Regions from separate parts of the Homo sapiens genome. Here regions 1, 3 and 4 are each reported to be linked to region 2. The links are microRNA targets in miRTarBase. Many come from high-throughput screens and were not tested one by one. Region 2 holds a microRNA gene; each other region holds the end of a gene's coding sequence.
What was found. The annotated mature microRNA hsa-miR-6729-3p reads UCAUCCCCCUCGCCCUCUCAG and lies in region 2 at 3,983-4,003, shown strand. An mRNA with a match to its seed (bases 2 to 7 or 8) in the 3' UTR can be bound and repressed. Matches are read on the target gene's strand: a 7mer-m8 pairs with bases 2 to 8, a 7mer-A1 pairs with bases 2 to 7 and ends in A, and an 8mer does both.

Region 1 (4,000 bases), not on the chromosome of region 2:
TCATAAAAACAGATACAATGAAACAGAATATAGAGTCCAGAAATAAACTCACACATATGCAGCCAACTAATCTTTGACAAGGGGACCAAGAATATACAATAGCAAAAGGAGCCTCTTTAGCAAATGGCGCTTGGAAAGTCGGATATGTACATGCAGAAGAGAGAAATTGGACCCTTATCTTACACCATATACCCTTATCTTACACCATATACCAAGTGACCACAGTATCATCTCACAAGCCAGAAAACTCTGCTCAAAAGATGCCAACTGTCTGCCAATCAAATGAAACAAGATAATTGCTAAGTCCCAACGAGACATTTTAGAACTTGACACACACTGCACAATTCATCTGGAAGAAAAAGCACATGGTCACCGCAGGGCCTTTCACAGGGCCGGTGAAGAGGAGGGTGGGCCTGTCCTGGCAGATGTGAAAAGGCCACAGAGCTGCAGGTGGAGACAGCAGAGCACAGAAGGGGCCCCTACGGCAACTAAGAGGCAGGCATATGCCCACCAGGGAAAAGAAATGGATTACTCGATCACGCCCATTGTTTGGGGATAGATCTAGATAGCTGGCTCTCAAACCTTACACAAAAATTAATGCTAGATTGGTTATACAATTACAGGTTAAGCAGTAATTCATTAAAACGGTGGTGAGAATCTGGGCAAAGGCTACCCTTGCATACATAAGCCCAGCAAGGGACTGCTCTCTACGCACTCCAGCAAGCCAGGCCCTGAGGAAAGGACACGTGGATTTCACAACACGAGAAAAACTTCCACGTGCAAACTGCAAACTGCAAGACAGTTATTTGCACACAAGGCATAGGAGAAGTTGCTGTGCTTTAGAGAGTTCCCATCCATCAGGAAGAGCAAACATCTCCAATGAAAAGGGACCAGTGGAGGCCGGGCGCAGTGGCTCACGCCTGTAATCCCAGCACTTTGGGAGGCTGAGGTGGGTGGATCACGAGGTCAGGAGTTTGAGACCAGCCTGCCCAACGTGGAGAAACCCCATCTCTACTAAAAATACAAAATTAGCTGGGCGTGGTGGCGCATGCCTATGATCCCAGCTACTTAGGAGGCTGAGGCAGGAGAATCGCTTGAACCCAGGAGGCAGAGGTTGCAGTGAGCCAAGACCCTGCCATTGCACTCCAGCCTGGGTAACAAGAGAGAAACTCTGTCTCAAAAAAAATAATAAAAATAAAGAATATGTTCCCCAAAATGCTCAGAATGCTTATCCCTGAATTTTAAGATTAAGATGATTTTCTCATTTTTAAAAATTAGTTGTTAGCATCTTTCTCTCATCCAGGCCAGAGCACAGTGGTGCCATCACAGCTCACTGTAGCCTCACACTCCTAGTTCAAGCAATCCTCCCACCACAGCCTCCTGAGTAGCTGGGACTACGGTGTGTGCGACCACACCTGACTAAGATCTTTTTTTTAGAGACAGGGTCTATGTTGCCCAGGCTGGTCTGGAACTCCGGGGCTCAAGCAATCCGCCTGCCTCGGCCTCCCAAGTCACTGGGATCACAGGTATATGCCACCTCCCCCAGTTATTTTTATCACTCTTGTCTTTGCTGTCTTCTTTCTTAAATAAGCGTATATTGCATATATAATAAAAAATAAAGCTATATTCATTTGGGGAAATTATGTTGCAGAAAAATATTTAATAACATAGATGTTCATGGCCTAGTTCAGAACAGAGAGGATGCTCCCACTTTTAGATACACGTCTGTCTGTGTGCACTCATGCCTGTAGAGATCAGAAGGACACACACAAAGCGTTGGCCATGGTAATATCCAGGTGTCTGTGATACGCTTTGGATCTATGTCTCTGCCCAAATCTCATGTTAAATTGTAATCCCCAATGTGGGAGGTGATTGGATCCCGGGGGCAGACTTCCCCATCTGGTGCAGTTCTCGTGGTCATAGAATTCTCACGAGATCTGGCTGTTTTGAAAAGTGTGTGGCAGCCCCTCCCCTTCCTCCCGCTCCAGCCATGCGAAGTGCCGGCTTCCCCTTCTCCTTCCGCCATGATTGAAGCTGAGCACATGCCGCCATGTTTCCTGTGCAGCCTGCAGAACCCTGAGCCAATTAAACCTCCTTTCTTTATACATTTTCCGGTCTCTGATATGTACGTGTAGCAGTGCGAGAATGGACTAATACAGTGCGGATAATTGTCACTTACAGGTTCTTTCTTTTGCTTTGTAGATATTCTCTAACTTTTATAGAATTAAGTGTACCATCAAATAAGTATCCATTAGCAGCTTTTTCCTTTCTAGCAGAGGTAGTGGAAGCCGGGGGTGCCTACACCCACCCAGCATCCCAGACCCCCCTGAGCAGGAACAGCTCTTGGCGGCAGGGAGCCAGCTCACACAGTTACGACCCTCCCAGGGGCAGCCTGTGGCTGGTGACCAGCCGATGCAGGGGTACAAAGGCCTGGTCCCTGCGTCCGTTGGGAGCCCCTATGAAGAGCCACCCAGCGGTCAGCTTGTCCCTCTGCCCAGGCTCACTGCTGACCCCTTACAGAAGCCTTTCCCAGGGCACCCCCAACAAACCCCCAGCATGGAGCCCATCTTTGGCGAGACCAGGAAAGTCAGTAAAAAAAAAAAATCACTGCAGGTGCAGCTGCTTTGACAGCCACAAGCCAGCCTGGAGCGGGGTCTCACCTGCTTGGCTCCAGCCCCGACACAGGCTCCCACCCCCCACACTCCCAGCTATTCTGCCCTCAGCAGCAAACCCCCATCGTCCTCATCCCTGGACGCTGTCCCCTTGTCTCCGGGGATGCTGTCGTCCTTCTCCAGGTCCGCCCCTCACTGCGCATCTTCCCCTGCCCTCTCCGTGAATTTCCACGCAGGCCACCCTCGAAGGCAACACTGCTCCCTGTCATGTGCTCCAGGCCCTCCTTCCTCTCATTCCCAGTGATTTCCACAAACACCATCGTCCCCAGAACACTCAGCACACAGCAGACACTCCGTAAGTGCACGGGGAACAAACGAGCACCGCAAACCCCAGTAGGAGCCTTGCACCCATGGGCACCTGAGCAGGGAGTGGAGCCTGCTGCCGCGGGCTCCTGGCAAGGTCCCAGAACAAGCTCCAGAGACCCAGGAGCTGCCCCCACCGCCATCTCTGCAGCAGGCTCCGAGTCCTGACCCTCACCTGCCTCGTCCATCAGGATGGCCCAGGCCATGCCCCATGGGAGGCCAAGCAAGATCAAAGCCAGGGGCAGAGGCAGGCACGGGCTCCACAAAAGCTCTGGGACTTTGCCCAGCTAGGGGCAGAGCACAGCACAGACTGTCAAAATCACCCCGTGGGGCCAATTTATTGCGAGGTCGCAAGGGAGACACTGCTACAAAGCATGACCCCAAAGGTGCAGAAATGCCTGCATTAGGCTGGAAGATTCCCTGAGGTGGCTCAGGCAGGTAAGAAACCCACACAGTCCTGGGTCCTCCCCAAGCCTCGGACGTGCAGCTGCTGCTTCACTGGAATTCTTCTCTCCTCCTGGAAACTTGCTCCAGTTGTGTCACTGGAGGAGGAAAAGGTGTGGGGGAGGGGGAAGAGGGGGCTGGAGCTGGCCTCCCCCGAGGCCTGGCTCCAGAACTCGGGCTGTGTGGGGCGGCTGAGGACTGTGCTCTGTCTAGAGCTTTTGCAGGCAAGGAGTCGGGATGCAGCAAGGACTGAGGGCTATCTGCCGTGACTCTTCAAAGAGGGGCCTGCCACACCCACCAAGTCCCATCCTGGAGTCTACAAGCCAAGGAGCTGCGACCTCACCGAGGGCGCCTGTTATTAAAAGCCCCATTGGCTGCGCGCGGTGGCTCATGCCTGTAATCCCAGCACTTTGGGAGGCCGAGGTGGGTGGATCACCAGATCAGGAGATCGAGACCATCCTGGCTAACACGGTGAAACCACGTCTCTACTAAAAATACAAAAAATTAGCCTGTAATCCCAGCTACTCGGGAGGCTGAGGCAGGAGAATCACTGGAACCGGGGAGGCGGAGGTTGCAGTGAG
Region 2 (6,234 bases):
CAGCTAATTTTTGCATTTTTAGTAGAGATGGGGTTTCACTGTGTTGGCCAGGCTGGTCTCGAACTCCTGCACTCAAGTGATTCTCCTGCCTCGGCCTCCCAAAGTGCTGGGATTACAGGTGTGAGCCGCTGTGCCTGGCTGGAATTCCCTTCCTTTTTAAGGCTGAGTGACATTCTGTTGTGTGTAGATGCCACATGTTGTTTATCTGTTCATTCAGGGATGGACACTTGGGTGCTTTCCATCTCTTGACTGTTGGGAATAATGCTGCTGGTGACATGGTTGTGCACTGTCACTTTTGACATAGCAGCCAGAGGGAATTTTTAAACATGGGAATCAGATCATGTCACTCCCCTACTCAAACCTCCCCATGGGCTTTTCCCAGCACTTACTGTAAAATCCAAAATCCCTATCTAGACTTACGAGGCATGATCTGGCCTCTACTGGCCCCATGATGTGACCTCCCGTCTTTCTTCCAGCCTCGCGGCCTCCTCCTTTTTTATTTTTATTTGTTTTCTCTGTTGCCCAGAGTCAAGTCCAGTGGTGTTATTTCTGCTCATTGCAACCTCCGCTTCCTTGGTTCAAGCAATTCTTCCTCAGCCTCCCAGGTAGCTGGGATTACAGACGTCCACTACCATGCTTGGCTTATTTTTGTATTTTTAGTAGAGACGGGGTTTCACCATGTTGGCCAGGCTGGTCTCGAACTCCTGACCTCAGGTGATCTGCCCGCCTTGGCCTCCCAAAGTGCTGGGATTACACACATAATGGGGTGGCCACAGGCATGGCAGGACCAGAAAGGAGGCCACGACCAGGCATGGTGGCTCACGCCTGTAATCCCAGCAATTTGGGAGGCCGAGGTGGGCGAATCACTTGAGGTCAGGAGTTCGAGACCAGCCTGAGCATCGTGGTGAAACTCTGTCTCTACTAAAAATACAAAAATTAGCCAGGTGTGGTGGCGGGCACCTATAATCCCAGCTACTCAGGACGCTGAGGCAGGAGAATCATTTGAATCCAGGAAGTGGAGGCTGCAGTGAGCAGAGATCAAGCCACTGCACTCTAACCCGGGCGACAAAGTGAGATTCTGTCTCAAAAAACAAAGACAGGTGTACTGTGGAGTTGCTGAGAGCAACTGGTGGCGGGGACACAGGCCCTGCCCTTGAGTACTTCTTGAACTCTCAGCTCACTGCCCTCCTTCCTGGTTCTGGGAAAATGGAAGCGCCTGTCCCAGTACCTGCTCTTGGTCCATGCGCTCTGCTCCCCTGCCTTTGCCGAGGTGACTGTCCATGCTGCCACCTGGACCCTGGCCCTGCTCCAGCGTGCTCCGCCCCTCTGCTTCTGGCTCCTCCAGGGTTTCCTTCCTGTGATCCTCTCCCTCTCTGTCCTGCATCCTCATCCTGCCCCTTAGCATGAGCATGAACGTGCAGGAAGCATTCTGGGAGCTGGTTGTATCTCATGCTCCCTGCACCAGGCACCGCTCCGAGCTGTGCTTCCTGTTCCTCCCGCTGACTCCTTTGCCCTTCATGATAAGCTTATTAGGTAGGCACCACCATGGTGCCCATTCACAGATGGGAAGGCTGAGGCCCGGTGAGACAGAATCTTACCAGCAGCTCACATCCAGTCGGGGTAAAGCCGCTGTCTGTTATTTCTCATCCCGATGCCACATTCCTACCTTTAGCCCACATTTGCTTCCAGTGACTGCCTGTTTTCTCGATAACAAAACTTCCTCTTCAAAAGGGCTGTCTAGCCTCGTTGCCTTCAATTTCTCTCCACTACTATTCCTTTTCTTTTTCTTTTTTTTTTTTTTTTTGAGATGGAGTCTCGTTCTTTCACCCAGGCTGGAGTGCAGTGGAGCAGTGATCTCAGCTCACTGCAACCTCCGCCTCCCAGGTTCAAGTGATTCTCCTGTCTCAGCCACCTAAGTAGCTGGGATTACAGGCATGCACCACTACACTCAGCTCATTTTTGTATTTTTAGCCAGAGACAGGGTTTCGCCATCTTGGCCAGTCTGGTCTGGAACTCCCGATGTCAAGTGATCTGCCCGCCTTGGCCTCCCAAAGTGCTGGGATTATAGGCATGAGCCACTGTGTCCAGCCTCCACTACTATTTCTTAAATCGGGCTTCAGCTCCCAGCATTTCATCAACATGGCCCTCAGTTGGGTCATCAGTGGCCTCCGTGGTGCCAACTCCCCAGCTTAGCCCTCATCCACATCTTCCTTTGAGTAGCAGGGGACACAGTGGTCACTCCTGAAGCACTTTCTCCCCTGGACTTCCAGCCACTTGCTTCCCGGTTCTCCCCCATCTCTGTTGGTGCTCCTTCCCAGGCTTCTGGGGAAGGAAAGGTCCTTGTTCTGACTGCTACACCCCTAGGCCTGGGACTCGGTCTTCTGACTCCTCCTCTCTATCTTCCCTCTATGATCTCCCAAACGCTGAGGTGTTTGGACACTTTCTCTACTTCTCCATTTGTATCTCTAGCCCGCACCTCTCCTCCGAATTCCAGACTTGTATATCCCACTGTCTTCTCCACATCACCATGAAGTTATTAACCTTCTGTCCGAAATCAAGGTCCTGATTTCCACTGCTGTGCTCCTCCTGCAGTCTTTCCTGTCTCCATAAATGGCAACTCCAAATACTAAATAGGTCAGGCCATAAACTTGCTGGATTTACCATCCAGCTACATCCTGATACACCCAACATAAGTTGAAAATACTGTTTAGGCCGGGTGCGGTGGCTCACGCCTGTAATCCCAGCACTTTGGGAGGCCGAGGCAGGTGGATCAGGCCAGGAGTTTGAGAACAGCCTGGCCAAGATGGTGAAACCCCGTCTCTACTAAAAATACAAAAATTAGCTGGGTGTGGTGGCGCACGCCTGTAATTCCAGCTCTGTAGGTGGCTGAGACATGAGAATCGCTTGAACCTGGGAGGCAGAGGTTGCAGTGAGCCGAGGTCGCTCCACTGCACTGCACCCTGGGCAACACGGTGAGATTCTGTCTCAAAAAATAAAAAAAGAAACATCCTAAGTCGAATCATGGTAAGTTGGGGGCTGCCCCTACCTCTCCCCAGCTGAATCCTAACCGATGCCTCTGCTTCCCCTCAACTTGAAGCAGCCAGAGGAGGAGTTCTGTAAAAATATGTGGCTGATGTGGTTGTGTCCCTCCCATTCCCCAGACCCTCCCTGGGCTTCTTAACCTCATCTCCTCCACCCTCGCTGCCTTCCTGCCACTTTCCCCTCCTGGCTGTTCCTCAGCTGAACCATGCACATGCCCACCCCGGGGCCTTTGCGCTTGCTCTTTCATCTCCCTGCGATGTCCTTCCTGGGAGGTCTCTGTGGCTTCTCCATGTCTCTGCTCAGGGTCATCTCACTCGGAGAGGCCTTCCCTGGTATGGCTGCCCGGCCATACTAGGCTCTGACGCTGCTCTCTTGCTTTCTGGCAGGTATCAGCATTCAGTCTTGTATCACGGGTTTTTTTTTTTTTGGTGGCTAGTTCATCTCTTGCCACCTTACAGTGTAAGCCTCATTAAGGCCAGGGGCTTTGTCTGTCTAGTTCCTGGCACATGAAACAGCATCTAGCCCTGTCATAAGGGCTCTGTCGATATTTTTTCCATGGATGGTTGGCTATGCATCAGGGTAGACAGACACTGAAACCAACCAACAGTCCCAGTGACTGGAGGGGCCCTCCTGGCCTGTTTGAGGCACAGTAGGGATGAAGCAGGTGGCCTGGGGTGCCAGGGCTGATCGTCTCTCCAAGCCTTGGCCGGTGGCCACACAGCAGCCCCCAGCCCCTCTCCCGTCAGCTGCCTGGTGCTTTGCCCACACCAGGGTCTCTGGACACCAGCTCTTCCATCACCAGCCAGCCTGAGGCCTTCTTCTCCAAGCTGCAGGAGTTTCGGGAAACCAACAAGGAGGAGTGTATCTGCAGCCATCCTGAGTGAGCAGGGGCGGGCGAGGGTGGGCGAGGGCGGCTGAGCGGCTCCATCCCCCGGCCTGCTCATCCCCCTCGCCCTCTCAGACCCCAGTTGCCAGGCCTGCGTGAGAGCAGTGGCAGCGGCGTGGAGGAAGACCATGAATGTGAGTGCGGGCCCTCGGCTAGGCCGCTGAGTAGTCCAGCCTCGCGCTGCCCTGGCCTCCCCTGCCCCAGAGCAGTCCCATTTGAGGTTTGGGGCCTGGGGAGGCCCCTGAGATGTTGAGACTCATGGAGGGAGGCCTGCAGTCTGGACAGGGTGGCCAAGCCCTGGTAGGGGTGGAGTGAGCTAAGGCCTGGCCACCGAATTAGGGGCTGCCCTGTGTGGCACCATCCCACCCTCCCCAGCAGTGCCCCTGTGCTGGTGGGACTCCATCCCAGCTCCTGAGGGCCCCAGGAGGATGTCCCTCCCCACCCCTTAGGGCGTGGGCCCCAGGTTCTGGGAGGAAAGGGGTTAGGAGGAAATGGGCCGAAGGGCTTCCCAGAGGGATTGGCAGCTTGTGTGGTTGGGGGCCGCTGAGGGCAGCACGGAGCCTGGGGACCTGGGTTCCTGGCTCAGGGAGAGCTGTGGCTTCTCATGGGCCTCGCAGGCGTGTACTGTTACCGTGTCAACCGGCGCCTGTTCCCGGTGCCTGTGGATCCCGGTACCCCCTGCCGCCTGTGCAGGACACCGCGAGACCAGCAGGGCCCTGGGACCCTGGCGCAGCCAGCGCACGTCAGGTGAGTGACCAGAGTATTGGGACACCTTGGGGGACAGAGCCTGAACCACTGGTTTTAAGAAAAGATGGGCCTGGGCGTGGGCCCCCAACCGCTGGGAGGCTCCTCAGGGGTCCCCCACTGCCCCCCTGCGCAGGGTGAGCATCCCGCTGTCGATCCTGGAGCCCCCGCACCGGTACCACATCCACCGGCGAAAGAGCTTTGACGCCTCTGACACACTGGCCCTGCCCCGGGTGAGCAGCCACGTGGGGCTGGATGGTGATGAGGGCGGGGCTGGCTCAGACTGGCCCAGATCCCCAGGGAGGGTCACAGAGCGAGACTGGGCTCGACAAGGGTGAGCGCCCAAGTCTCTGGAGCACAGCCTGGGCCTCTTCCATCACCCACACCTGTACCTAAGGGAGGTAGGACCCCCGCTCCACGTACCCCGGTGCTTCCAGGGTGATCTGCCTGCAGGCTGGCATGACATGAATGGGTCCTGTTTATTGCGCTTTTGTGTACTGCAGGCACAGTCCTTAGGGGGCTTATCTCATGGAGCCCCCACAGCAGCCAGGAGTGTAGGCACTGCTGTACCCCCACCCTGCAGGTGGGGAGACCGAAGCAGAGGGGGAGGCGCCTTGGTGGAGGAGCTGGGATTCGAACCTAGGTCTCTGTGCTGCTGCTGCTGCTTTTTTTTTTTTTTTTTTTTTTTGAGACCGAGTTTTGTTCTTACTGCCCAGGCTGGAGTGCATTGGCATGGTCTCAGCTCACTGCAGCCTCCACTGTAGTCCCAGCTACTTGGGAGGCTGAGGTGGGAGGATCGCTTGAACCTGGGAGGCAGAGGCTGCAGTGAGCTGAGATCTCGCCACTGCACTGCAGCCTGGGTGACAGAGTGAGACTCCATCTCAAAAAAAAAAAAAATGTCCTTTCCTGTGTCTCCAGGTCGGGATGGGGTGCCAGTGGCAACTCCCCCTGACTCCTAAATTGAGAGTAGGGCAGCTGGGGTCAGAGGAGGAGAAGGATGCAGAGGAAAGTCAGTTTGCTGGTCCGTAAAATGGACATAACAGCGCCATCCTCAGGGATGTTGGTGGTGAGGTGGGGCTGTTGAGTGAAGCAATCCATGCAGGTGCTTGGAGAGCCTACAGCAGGAAGTACCCTGTGAATGTCACTGTCACCGTCCTATCCTCCTCCCATTTCAGCTCTCAGGGCCCCAGGGATGGCTGGATCTGCCAGGATAAGAAAGGGGAGAGCTGGGGTAGTCTTGTGGGTAGACACAGGCCCTGCCTTGGTGGGGGCCTCCTTCCTAATGGGGGGCACAGTTCCTCCCTGATGGGGGTGTGCCCAGTCAGCGGGGAGCTTGTCCCAGGTCAGGCACTTTTAACTCCTTGCCTTCCACAGCACTGCCTGCTGGGCTGGGACATTTTTCCTCCGAAGTCTGAGAAAAGCTCAGCCCCCAGGAACCTGGACCTCTGGTCCTCTGTCTCCGCTGAGGCCCAGCACCAGAAGCTGTCCGGCACCAGCAGCCCTTTTCACCCGGTACGGTCCAGATCGCATCCTAGCCTGGGGTGCCCCCTAGAGGGACAGAG
Region 3 (4,000 bases), not on the chromosome of region 2:
AACAGAAGTGGAATGAGTTTACTTCTCATTGTATACCCTTTACTACTGAATTTGAATTGTTTACCATGTATATTTATCACATATTCAAAAAAATCATAAAAGAGAACTGAAGAGACATTTATTCCATAAGATAAAGAAATTGTCAGCGTCAGCATATAAAAGAGTGATTTAATTTATATTAATAACCAAGTTGACAACTTATTATACAGTGGTGGCAGCAATCATAACATTAAATTAATTTTGTCTTTCAAATTCTGAGAAAAAACATGAGGTTGGAGATGTCTTCTGTATATCCTCTAAAAATTTTGCCTCTTTTTTTTTCCAGTTTGCAGCTCACCTTGTGAAGATGAAATATCCAAGAATCTGTATTCTAGATGGTGGCATTAATAAAATAAAGCCAACAGGCCTCCTCACCATCCCATCTCCTCAAATATGAAGAACCAAGAGTGTGACTGCCAAAACTTAGTGTGGCATCAGCACCAACAGCACAGTTCTTCATATCCACGCCACTCTCAGACAAAACTAGATGTCCAGATTGTTGCATTTCCGTAAAGTTTGTCACGAGACATTTTTTAAAATCTCATAACCCACATGTTCAGTTATCCATGCAAGAAACTTGACTCTACATGTATTGCTGAAAGAATTTTCTTAACAGTGAAATCTGATCATATATTTTTACCACACTGCCACATAAAGCCCAAGAAATTCAGCTGACAAGACAGATTTAGCATTATCAAGAAATCCCATTTGCCCTGAAAAAGCTGTCCTCCATTGTACTGAACAGACAGTCCTGTCGATTGTGTTATTTAGAAACATACACTGAATGTGGGCTGAAATCATCATCTTTCCATAATGAAAACTGAGAAACTATTCACAATGCATTCCTTATAAATAAATGCTACATTTAGTAACTCATTTCACCCAAACAAGGGGGATGTGTGTGTGTGTGTGTGTATAGGAAGTGGAGTTTATCCCATTGCAGAAAGTGGTAATACTTACTCCCAGAAAAATGAAATTTAGAAACCATTTATATTTGATAGAATATTTGGTCAGTTCCTGTAGCAAAGACGAATGGCTTAAACAAATTTTCTAGTTTCTTTATCACATGAAAGTCTGTACAGTCAGTCCAGGGCTAGTCTACTGGTTTCCTGATCATTAAGAACTCATTACCTTCTCTCATTGCTTTACAAACCTCAATATGTGGCATCCATCTCATGGATGAAAATGGCTCCTCAGCTTCTACCATCACATCTGCTATCTAGAAGGAAGAGAATGAGGGAAGGAGGGAGGGGATGAAGAGAAAAGAAGGAACAAAAGAAGGAGGGAGGAAAGAAGAAAAGAAAGGAAAAGAAGCGAAGCACACTCCTTCCCTTTAAGGTCATAAACCAGAAGTTGCGCACACTACCTCTGCTTACATATCATTGGCCAGAACTTGGGTGCATGGCCACACCTAGCTTTAAGGAAAACTGGAAATAGAGTCTTTGGGTGGTTGATCATTTCCCCAGCTAAAAACATTCTTATTACTGTGTGGGAAGAAGAGAGTACATATTGAGGTACAGCTAACAACCTCTGCCTCTGCCACATTGTTTTTAAAATGAGTATTATATTTCATTAAATCTAAGACATCTCACAATTTTAGGTACCACAAAGAAAAAATGAAGCCAAATGAATTGTGACACTTTGTCAATTAAAAGACACATTCCCTGGGAGGCCGAGGTCAGGAGTTTGAGACCAGCCTGGCCAACATGGGGAAACTTTGTCTCTACTAAAAATATAAAAATTAGCTGGTCATAGTGGCACACGTCTGCGGTCCCAGCTACTCAGGAGGCTGAGGCAGGAGAATCACTTGAACCTGAGAGGCAGAGGTTGCAATGAGCCATGATAGGGCCACTGTACCCCAGCCTGGGCAACAGGGCTCACCCTGCCATCTCAAAAAAAAAAAAAAAAAGAAAGATACATTCCCATTTCAGAAATCTGAAAAAAAAAATGCCTCATATATATGAAATATAGCATATCCTTTAATTATCTTCAATTTTGTTTTAACTAAAAAGTGTTCATTCATCTATAACTTACATTCCACTCCAATGTTAAGACTGCCTAGGCAGAACATTTCAATAAGAGCCTCAATTCAGCTTTCTGGGCCATGGTTTTGTTGTTGCTGCTATTGTTTACTTTATTTTATTTTTTCTTTGCATCTACTTTTTAAATTGAGATATACTTAACCATAAAATTCATCCTTTTAACATGTACAGTTCAGTAGTTTTTAGTGTATTCACAAAGTTGTGCAATCAGTATTATCCAGAATACTTTCATTGTATGCAATTGTCTACCTGATCAGCAGGTATTCCACATTAACCCCTCCTAAGGTCTTTGATAAATTTTTGTATATGGAGTGAGGGGTCCAGGTTCATTCTTGCATATGAGTATCCAGTTGTCCCAGGACCCCTCCTGTTTTGTTTGTTTTATTCAATTTATTTGGTCATTCACCAAATATGTTTTGAATACCTACTATGTATTTCTAAGACACTAATATAATCCATAGTTATATCATTTGTGATCCTTACCTAGTTTACAAGGAAAAAAATGTGAGAATTAATGAGAACAAATATATACCAAGATTTCACTAACATTGTTTTTGGGCCATTGTCTACCCTCTTCAGAGAAATATTAAATCCTCCTGTCCTGGCAATTACTATTTTCTTCCTTCAGTCTTTGATGACTTACCTGAGTTCATAATCAGAATGCACCATTGATGATCATTCTGAGTCTTAACTCTGCCTTACTGAGAAAGCAGAGAAGAGAGGGATGGAGGGGCAGTGATTTGAGTTGAATAAGGTGGTAGGTAGTAGGAGAGGATGAAGACCTTGTGAAGAGAGCTATGTAAGAAGATAATAGTAGCAACCCTCTGTCATGATTTTGCATTTGATCTTTCTTAAAACGACACATTTAGGCTTATTCCAAGAAATTGAAGTTTTTTAAACATGAAAATTATAATATTTAATATTCTCAACAGTAAAGTAAGAGCACACTATCACTGCCATGTTTATACACAGGGCATGTTATTTCATGGTGGATGATACGAACAGTTGACCTCAACAACTATTTGTTAGATTAAACGTATATAACCCAGGATTTATTTGAGTTCCTTTTTAATGTATTATTGATTCCTACACGATGACTATCAGCACTGTTTCTGGCTTTACCTGGAATGCCATAAGTACCACCACCAGCCCACACAGATATACATACACACACACACACACACACACTCACATTCATAAACACACTTATTAACTCTTGATAATCTAGCAACAACAGTGTACCTCCTCCAGTCTTCTCTGGCTTCCCCATGCTGCACTAAGAGCCCCAAATCTACTAAAGCATTCCATTCATAATTTACTAATAATAGATTTATTACATCATTTTGCAATCGTTTGTTTACATTTAGTCCCCTATTAAAATATGAGCTGCTTAAGATCAGGAGCTATAATTTATACCTCTTGCTACCTTCAGCAACCCACCACATTGGATATGCTCAATTAATATAAAATTGAATCTATCAATTTTAGAATCTATTTGAAGGGAGAAAAATAAAAATAACCTGTGGTAATTTTTTTCAACTGCCAAACTTATCTGGTACCTGATAGTATAGAAATAAATTGAAATCTCAATTCATGGAGTGAAAAAAGGATCTCTAAAGTCCCATCCAGCTCTAAAATCTGATAATTCTAGAAGTTGGAGCAGATAACTTCCAAAATAAGGTAATTTAATCTAGTTGCATCCTCTTTTCAAAATACAGAAATGTTAGATTCAAAAAGCATATTAAAAATAACTAATGCTTAACCAAGTTTGAAAGAAAGAAGTTTTTTGATGTCAGAAATGAAAAGGACCTGAAAGGCACAGCTTTTAGGCCCGTGGGATACCCAGTATCAATATAAGCCCCAAGAACTCAGGTTTTGGAATACATATAGGAATAGAAGACATAGCTTTGGATCTTATG
Region 4 (6,234 bases), not on the chromosome of region 2:
AACACTGAAGGCAAGATGTAGAGATGGAGAGCACCAAAGTTTCTCTCTCTGTGTGTGTGTGTGTGTGGTTTCATCTATTTTGTTTTAAGGTTTGCTAAGGTTTCCTTGAAGTAAGTAAGATTTTAAAACCTTTACTCGATGCTCCTGCCTTATCCCAGCTCTAAGAAGAACTACTGTTTTCACGTCAATTAAGGAGGACAAAAAAACCTTGCTGCAGGAAAGTAGAATAACTCATCTGGCTAAGTTTCCAAGAGGCTGAGACGGTTATATGGATCTTTAACAGCCCCGCAGCCAGCAGATGGTCAGTTATCACAGGAATAATGCAGACTGGCTGTTCTCTATCCTTTCATGGGCAGTGGAACCTAAATGGCAAAAATGGGTAGATTTTAGGAAAACTACTATATCTGGCAAAGTTCCTTATAGAATCTCACAGAATTAACTCTTTCAAATTAGCAAAGATAGACATGAAAATCAGTTCTAATTCTGTGGGACAGTTTCACGTCCCATATTTTTTCTTTGTTTCTTTCACAATAACCTCTAAGATGGTCAATCTTTGTGAGCAAACATGATAAAAGTGGAAAATTAATATGATAACCTCTCATGAATTATAAGTTATAACTTGGGCTCTATTCAAGGCTCACTCTAACTCATGAAATAAAATGGCATTGCAAAATGTTTTCAAAGAGACATGTCTTTTGTAATCTTAATACTGTATTTCAGTGAAGGTGAAGGTTAGAGGCATGTGTGAACAGGACCACAGTGCATAGCCATTTGTTAAATGAGTAGTTCCAAAGGGTAGGCAAAGGGAGAGAGCTATGCCCTGCCCTGCCCTGCATTGTAAAGGGAGTTATATAAGCCTTACAACAAACATAAGGAAGGGATTATTCTAATCACGGAGACATGGATAGAGTAACTAATTTGCCCATAATAGGTGTCAGAACTGGGACCTAAATCCAGATCTGTTCAACTCCAAGACTGGCCCGTGTGAAATTAAATATGCAGTGATATGTCAGGATATATCAAAAACATGTCATACATGGGCCACATCTTTATATAGGGTCAATTGTGTTTAGTATTTAGTAGTAATTTTAATGTCATTTTATATTAAACAAAATATAGATGTGCTATAGAGTGAAACATAGAATTTGAATGATTTTAAATTCAATTTAGATGTGAGATTCAAAAGAAACTTCATTTTTGAGGCAAGCCATTTCAAGTTATGTTCCCAGAGTCTTGAAATGTTGTACCTCTTACTTCTCCCACAGGAGTTACTTAAGTAGAAACGTTTGAGAAACCAATACCTGTCCAATGAAACCACCTTAGATTGGTCCAGTGGTCAAGCTCTTTGTCAAGCTGGATCTAAGCAACCATTGCAGTAGTGACTTATGATGGCCTGTGGAGGGCTGTAGCCTCAAAACACTCAACCCTTGCTTGTAAAAAGTAATTATTTTATTTTGCAGGAGGCTGTTATTGAAAATCGAGCCCTGTGGATGATGATTAAAAGATGTTTCGGCTATCAGTCAAAAAGCCAGTATCGGATATGGCAGAGGGACTTGGCAAATGACCCTAGTTGGCCCCCGCTAAACCAAACCTCCCACTCTGACATGCCGGAGTGTGGCAGAGGAGTGTCTTACAGCAATCCAGTATTTGAGAGCAATGAAGAACAACTCTGAAGGACATGTGATATCCAAGTTGATATTACAGAGAAACAATGACAAAAGGGACCAGTTTCATTGATTTTAAGAAATGAGACTCTTGTAACATCAGCTGGAGTTTTGGGGCTACCTATCAAATCATGGTGACAAACTAAAGTCTGTTTGATAAAATACTGTCTACAGAGAAGAACATTGACCCAGAAGAGTGCTTTCCTCTTGGCTTCTGAAGGTATTAGAGGCATTCAGTGAAGGCAAGAATGGGCCAAGAATTTCTATGGGCCAAGAGACAAGCAGGCTAAAGGGGAAAAATATGTGATCTTTCCTCTTAGGACAGGACAATACTTTCCTTTTTATAAAAATGAGTTGAGGGGAAGTAGTACTGTGTATACTCACGGAGTTGTAATTTTTGAATTTTTACTTCATCGATGGAAAAACTAATGCGTGGGAAACATTACACCAATCTTTACTGTCTGGGTTCCTTTTCTCTGTAGTACTTTTCAGATTTGAGGCTTTTTCTTCTGTTTCTGGCCTTACCCAACATATTGTTAAGGATAAGCTTAGCCTATGCTGCAATAAAAAACAACTCTCAGATATCAGTGCCTTAACACACAAGTGCTTCTTTCGTGATCCAGGTGACACTCTGGAACTGCCATTCTTACAGCAGTGACTGCTTCAACCTGATGGCTCCATCAGCTCGATGCAAGGACTGTGTGTTGACTGTGATGGGGGAAGGAATAGACTGGAGATCACGTGTGGGCTCTTCACTGCCTCACCCCAAAAGTGGCACACATTGCTTTCCCTACTCATATCTCATTAGTCAAGGATTTGGCCAGGGAGCTGGAAAGTGCAGTCTCCTGTGTTTAGGGATGCTTCATGGGCTTATGAGCTGTCACTACACAGGGCCCCATGCTTAGAAGGTCCCCACACTTGGCTTTAACACTCTGCTGTTTCCATCTTAAAATTCTTAATTTTTGAACAGGGGTCCCCATATTTTCATTTTGTACCAGGCCCCACAAATGATAGAGTTGGTCTGGAACGTAGTCCTGGGAAGGAGAGGAAAATAACAGATCAGAAAGCACGAGTGCTGTCCACTACAGCCCACTTTTCCTAACCCCAGTAACTTATCCTATGTTTTAGGAATCTCTCATGTCACATGGCCAACTCCAGAAATTTTCACTCCTCTGCTTTATTATTTTTGAGAAACATTAGTCTCATGCTACAGCATTATATGGCACTATTGATGGGAGTTCTTACACAACTAGTACATTTTTTTTTTAAAGTTTGTGGCTTGAGTTTCCAGAAAACTAAAATTGTCCTTATTTTGTCACTATTACAATTTGGTTATATTTGATTTGTTCAGCACAAGGAAGACTCAGGTTTCTGTTACCTCAGGAGACAACACTGAACTCTAGGAGCACACCTACATATAATATTTTAAGGCAAAAGCAAAATTTGTATTATGAGCATCAAATCCTAGGTGAATGTTCTGATCAGGGGATAAGTGTCCTGGCCCAGGCTGGCTTTGGAACTTATCAATAGCATTTGCAAGCATTCCTTCCCCCTAACTGAGCTCTTGAGCATGGCTGATGGCTCTATGATTGCAGCTGATTCTAGGAACATGGTGTCTCCCAGCCATGAGGGTACCCTGTTACTTCTGGTTTTAAAATAGGGCGTGAAGATATTTTAGTGTTTCAAGACTGCAGAATCACTGTCTTTTTTGGTACAGAAAGAAATGTTTCCTTTTGCAAAGCCAGCCTCAGCAATGATATGGCAGTTCTGAATGTCCTTCTCTAAAAGTGTTTCTCATTTTCCAAAAGTAGAGGGTTGTAGGCAGGGGCAAGCTAGAGATGGTCTGTGACCTAGTCATGAGCAAGATCAGCCTGCACAGTTCATACTTAAATGTGCCCTTTGCTAAGTGCATTCACCTCCACTAACTCACCTGAATGGTACCAATTGTCCCATGACTGAACAAGGAAGGGCTTATCATCTCCACCATACAGATGAGAAAGCTGAGATTCAGTAATGGCAAGAGCAGATCTAGGCCTCAAATACAGATCTTCTGAGCAAACCTTATATTGCTGCCAAATACTTCCAAATTCCAGAGTTCCAGCAGGGCAGGTTGCTTAGTGTGATCTCACAGTCAAGCAAAGAATGGGCAACCCTTTGCTAATACCAGGCCCTCTGTTCAAATGAATGCCAGGCATCCTGCCAGGCCTGGGCTAGAGGTGTATTAAAAACAAAACAAAACAAAACAAAAAAATGATTGTCTGTCTTTCTGAGACTTTGAGTTGCTCTTGCCTTGATCCTAAGTGATTCTATCACTAGCAAAGGCTGGCAGGGAACAGGAAGAAAAGAATCTAGTCCTCCACTAGTCAAGCAGCCATAAAATCTTTGGGAAAAGAGACTCATTTTGAAGACTGTATTCCTGGGATTAACTACATCTTAGAAGCAGTAATTGAAGGAACAGGGAGTGCCCAGCCTGGAAAGAAAACAGTCAGGGGACTGTGAAGGGTTTTCCTGAGAAAGAAGGATCCTACTTGTGCCAGGTGGCATGAGAAGGCAAAATCAGGACAAATGGGTAAAGATCACAGTGGGGATGGCTTCAGGCCATCTGCCCTAACCACTGTCCTAACAGCCAGCACTGATAGCAGTGGAATGTACTCTAGGACATTGGAGGAACAAGTGGCTATTCAAGGGCCAAGTAGAGAAGGAAGTCAAGTATCAGATGAAACTCAATTACCTGCAAGATCTCTTTCAAGCTTGATACACCCAGTGTCTCAGTCTTATGCTGTGATGTGAACCTTTTTTTTTTTTTTTTTTTTTTGAGATGGAGTCTCACTCTGTTGCCCAGGCTAGAGTGCAGTGGCACAATCTCGGCTCACTGCCAGCTCCGCCTCCCGGATTCACACCATTCTCCTGCCTCAGCCTCCCAAGTAGCTGGGACTACAGGTCTGCCACCATGCCCGGCTAATTTTTTGTATTTTTAGTAGAGATGGGGTTTCATCATGTTAGCCAGGGTGGTTTCAATCTCCTGACCTCGTGATCCGCCCGCCTCGGCCTCCCAAAGTGCCGGGATTACAGACATGAGCCACCAGATGTGAACTATTTTCTACTACTACCCACACAGAATACCAGACAGACACTCATGGGAGGATGGGCTCTGGAGGGAGGGCTCCCAGCCTTGTCAGATCCGATTGTGTGGACATATAGACTCAATTGCCCTGTACCTTGAAAGGGGACCCCTAATGGAGATAAGATCCTAGGAAAGAGGGGCAGAGTAGGGGTCCTGATTGTCAGATTGAAGCTGGGGTAATACTTCTGATTTGTGAATTTTCTTAAAGAGAGGTGTTAAAAAACTTTGCATGAAAGAGCGTGGGAGAGTGCCCTAAACTTGAGGGCGGAGCAACCTGTTATCAATACACTTTCTTGAGCAGAGTCTGAAGGAGAAACGAACACAGTCACATAGTCCAAATCATTTGAGACGGTGCCCTGTATGTTCATCTCAAGGCATCTAGCTCTTACCCACAGAGAACCGTGACTCTGGGCTTCCCTCACTAAATATGTCTGTGACATCTGTATCCTTATGTGCTTATGGAAATGTTCACATACACACCTGCAGATGTGATGACTGAAAAAAACGATTATTTATTCAGAGCTTTGTATTTAGTTTATGCTATAATAAATTCAGTTGTTATAAAAATCAGTCTCTCTCTCTGCGGTGGAGTCTTTCATTCTGTCTAATGGTGTGGTTTACTCCAGTAATGTTGAATCAAACAACATCTTTACAAAGTTCCAGGCATTTTCTAACACCACAGATGCTATTATTCTCTGCTTTATACACAGGGCATTAGAGTTTACAAAATACTTTCATCCTTGTTCTCTCATTTAAGCCTCGTTAACAACCTTAGGAGGAAAGAAAGGCAAGGATTACTGTCTCTCTTCTTTTGATGAGGTACAAGGCTCTCCAGATGTCTCAGCAACCAGGACACATGGCCCATGGATGGAGGAGCTGGATTCAGATGCAGGTCCTTTATCAGCGAGATCCCTGCTGTGTCACTCTCCTATGTTGTTTTTCCTGAATGAAAAAAGAAGAGAAAAACCGTAGCATTGAAAAACAAGACGACAGCGAGGCAAATGTCCAATGTAATTGCCATAATGAGCACAGTTTCTTCCAGAAAGAGATTTTGGTGTTTCATGGAAGTTCTCTTGAACCTGACCATCAATCACAGAAAAGGCCAACTCCCACAGCTGAGGGAGGAAAATCATAACACCAGAGCCCTGTGAGCCCATTTCATGTGATTGGATAAAGCTCTGGTTTCTGACTTCAGTCTCCAGAAACAGAAAACTATATCCCTGCTTGATCTTTATTCAGACTTGCTTGGCACAGCTTTTCAGGTTCCTATAGATTTTCTTTTGGCTTTGAACTGTGCTCACTTCTCTATGCATAAACATTTGGAAAACTGCTGCCCTATAACATTCTGTCTGCCCTTTGGTTTCCATTAGACTTGTTAACAATGGCCTTTAAACTTTATTAGTAAAGTGAGTTTCTCCAAAATTAAACAAAGATAAAATTAACAAC

Region 1: miRTarBase lists ANKMY1 as a target of hsa-miR-6729-3p. The part of its 3' UTR that is shown has no 7-base or 8-base seed match.
Region 3: miRTarBase lists TBCK as a target of hsa-miR-6729-3p. Seed matches in the 3' UTR shown: 7mer-m8 at 931-937 and 8mer at 1,289-1,296.
Region 4: the mRNA of ATP13A4 is a reported target of hsa-miR-6729-3p. Seed matches in the 3' UTR shown: 7mer-m8 at 4,248-4,254.

Annotation. Positions count from the first base shown.
Region 1 is chr2:240,476,139-240,480,138 of GRCh38, forward strand. It overlaps ANKMY1 (ankyrin repeat and MYND domain containing 1), which reads right to left. Exons shown (of 18, transcript NM_001282771.3): 18 at 3,284-3,517. The coding sequence ends at 3,471. Among named protein-coding and RNA genes, the nearest start is that of GPC1-AS1, 21 kb to the left of the region's middle. RefSeq lists enhancers at 2,058-2,567, 2,568-3,077, 3,078-3,587.
Region 2 is chr1:12,025,220-12,031,453 of GRCh38, forward strand. It overlaps MIR6729 (microRNA 6729), which reads left to right and starts at 3,939; the gene lies at 3,939-4,003. It overlaps MIIP (migration and invasion inhibitory protein), which reads left to right. Exons shown (of 10, transcript NM_021933.4): 5 at 3,814-3,922; 6 at 4,004-4,062; 7 at 4,546-4,675; 8 at 4,809-4,905; 9 at 6,047-6,184.
Region 3 is chr4:106,043,006-106,047,005 of GRCh38, reverse strand. TBCK (TBC1 domain containing kinase) reads left to right here. Exons shown (of 26, transcript NM_001163435.3): 26 at 326-4,000. The coding sequence ends at 436. Among named protein-coding and RNA genes, the nearest start is that of NPNT, 150 kb to the right of the region's middle.
Region 4 is chr3:193,398,091-193,404,324 of GRCh38, reverse strand. It overlaps ATP13A4 (ATPase 13A4), which reads left to right. Exons shown (of 30, transcript NM_032279.4): 30 at 1,461-5,358. The coding sequence ends at 1,673. Among named protein-coding and RNA genes, the nearest start is that of ATP13A5, 22 kb to the right of the region's middle.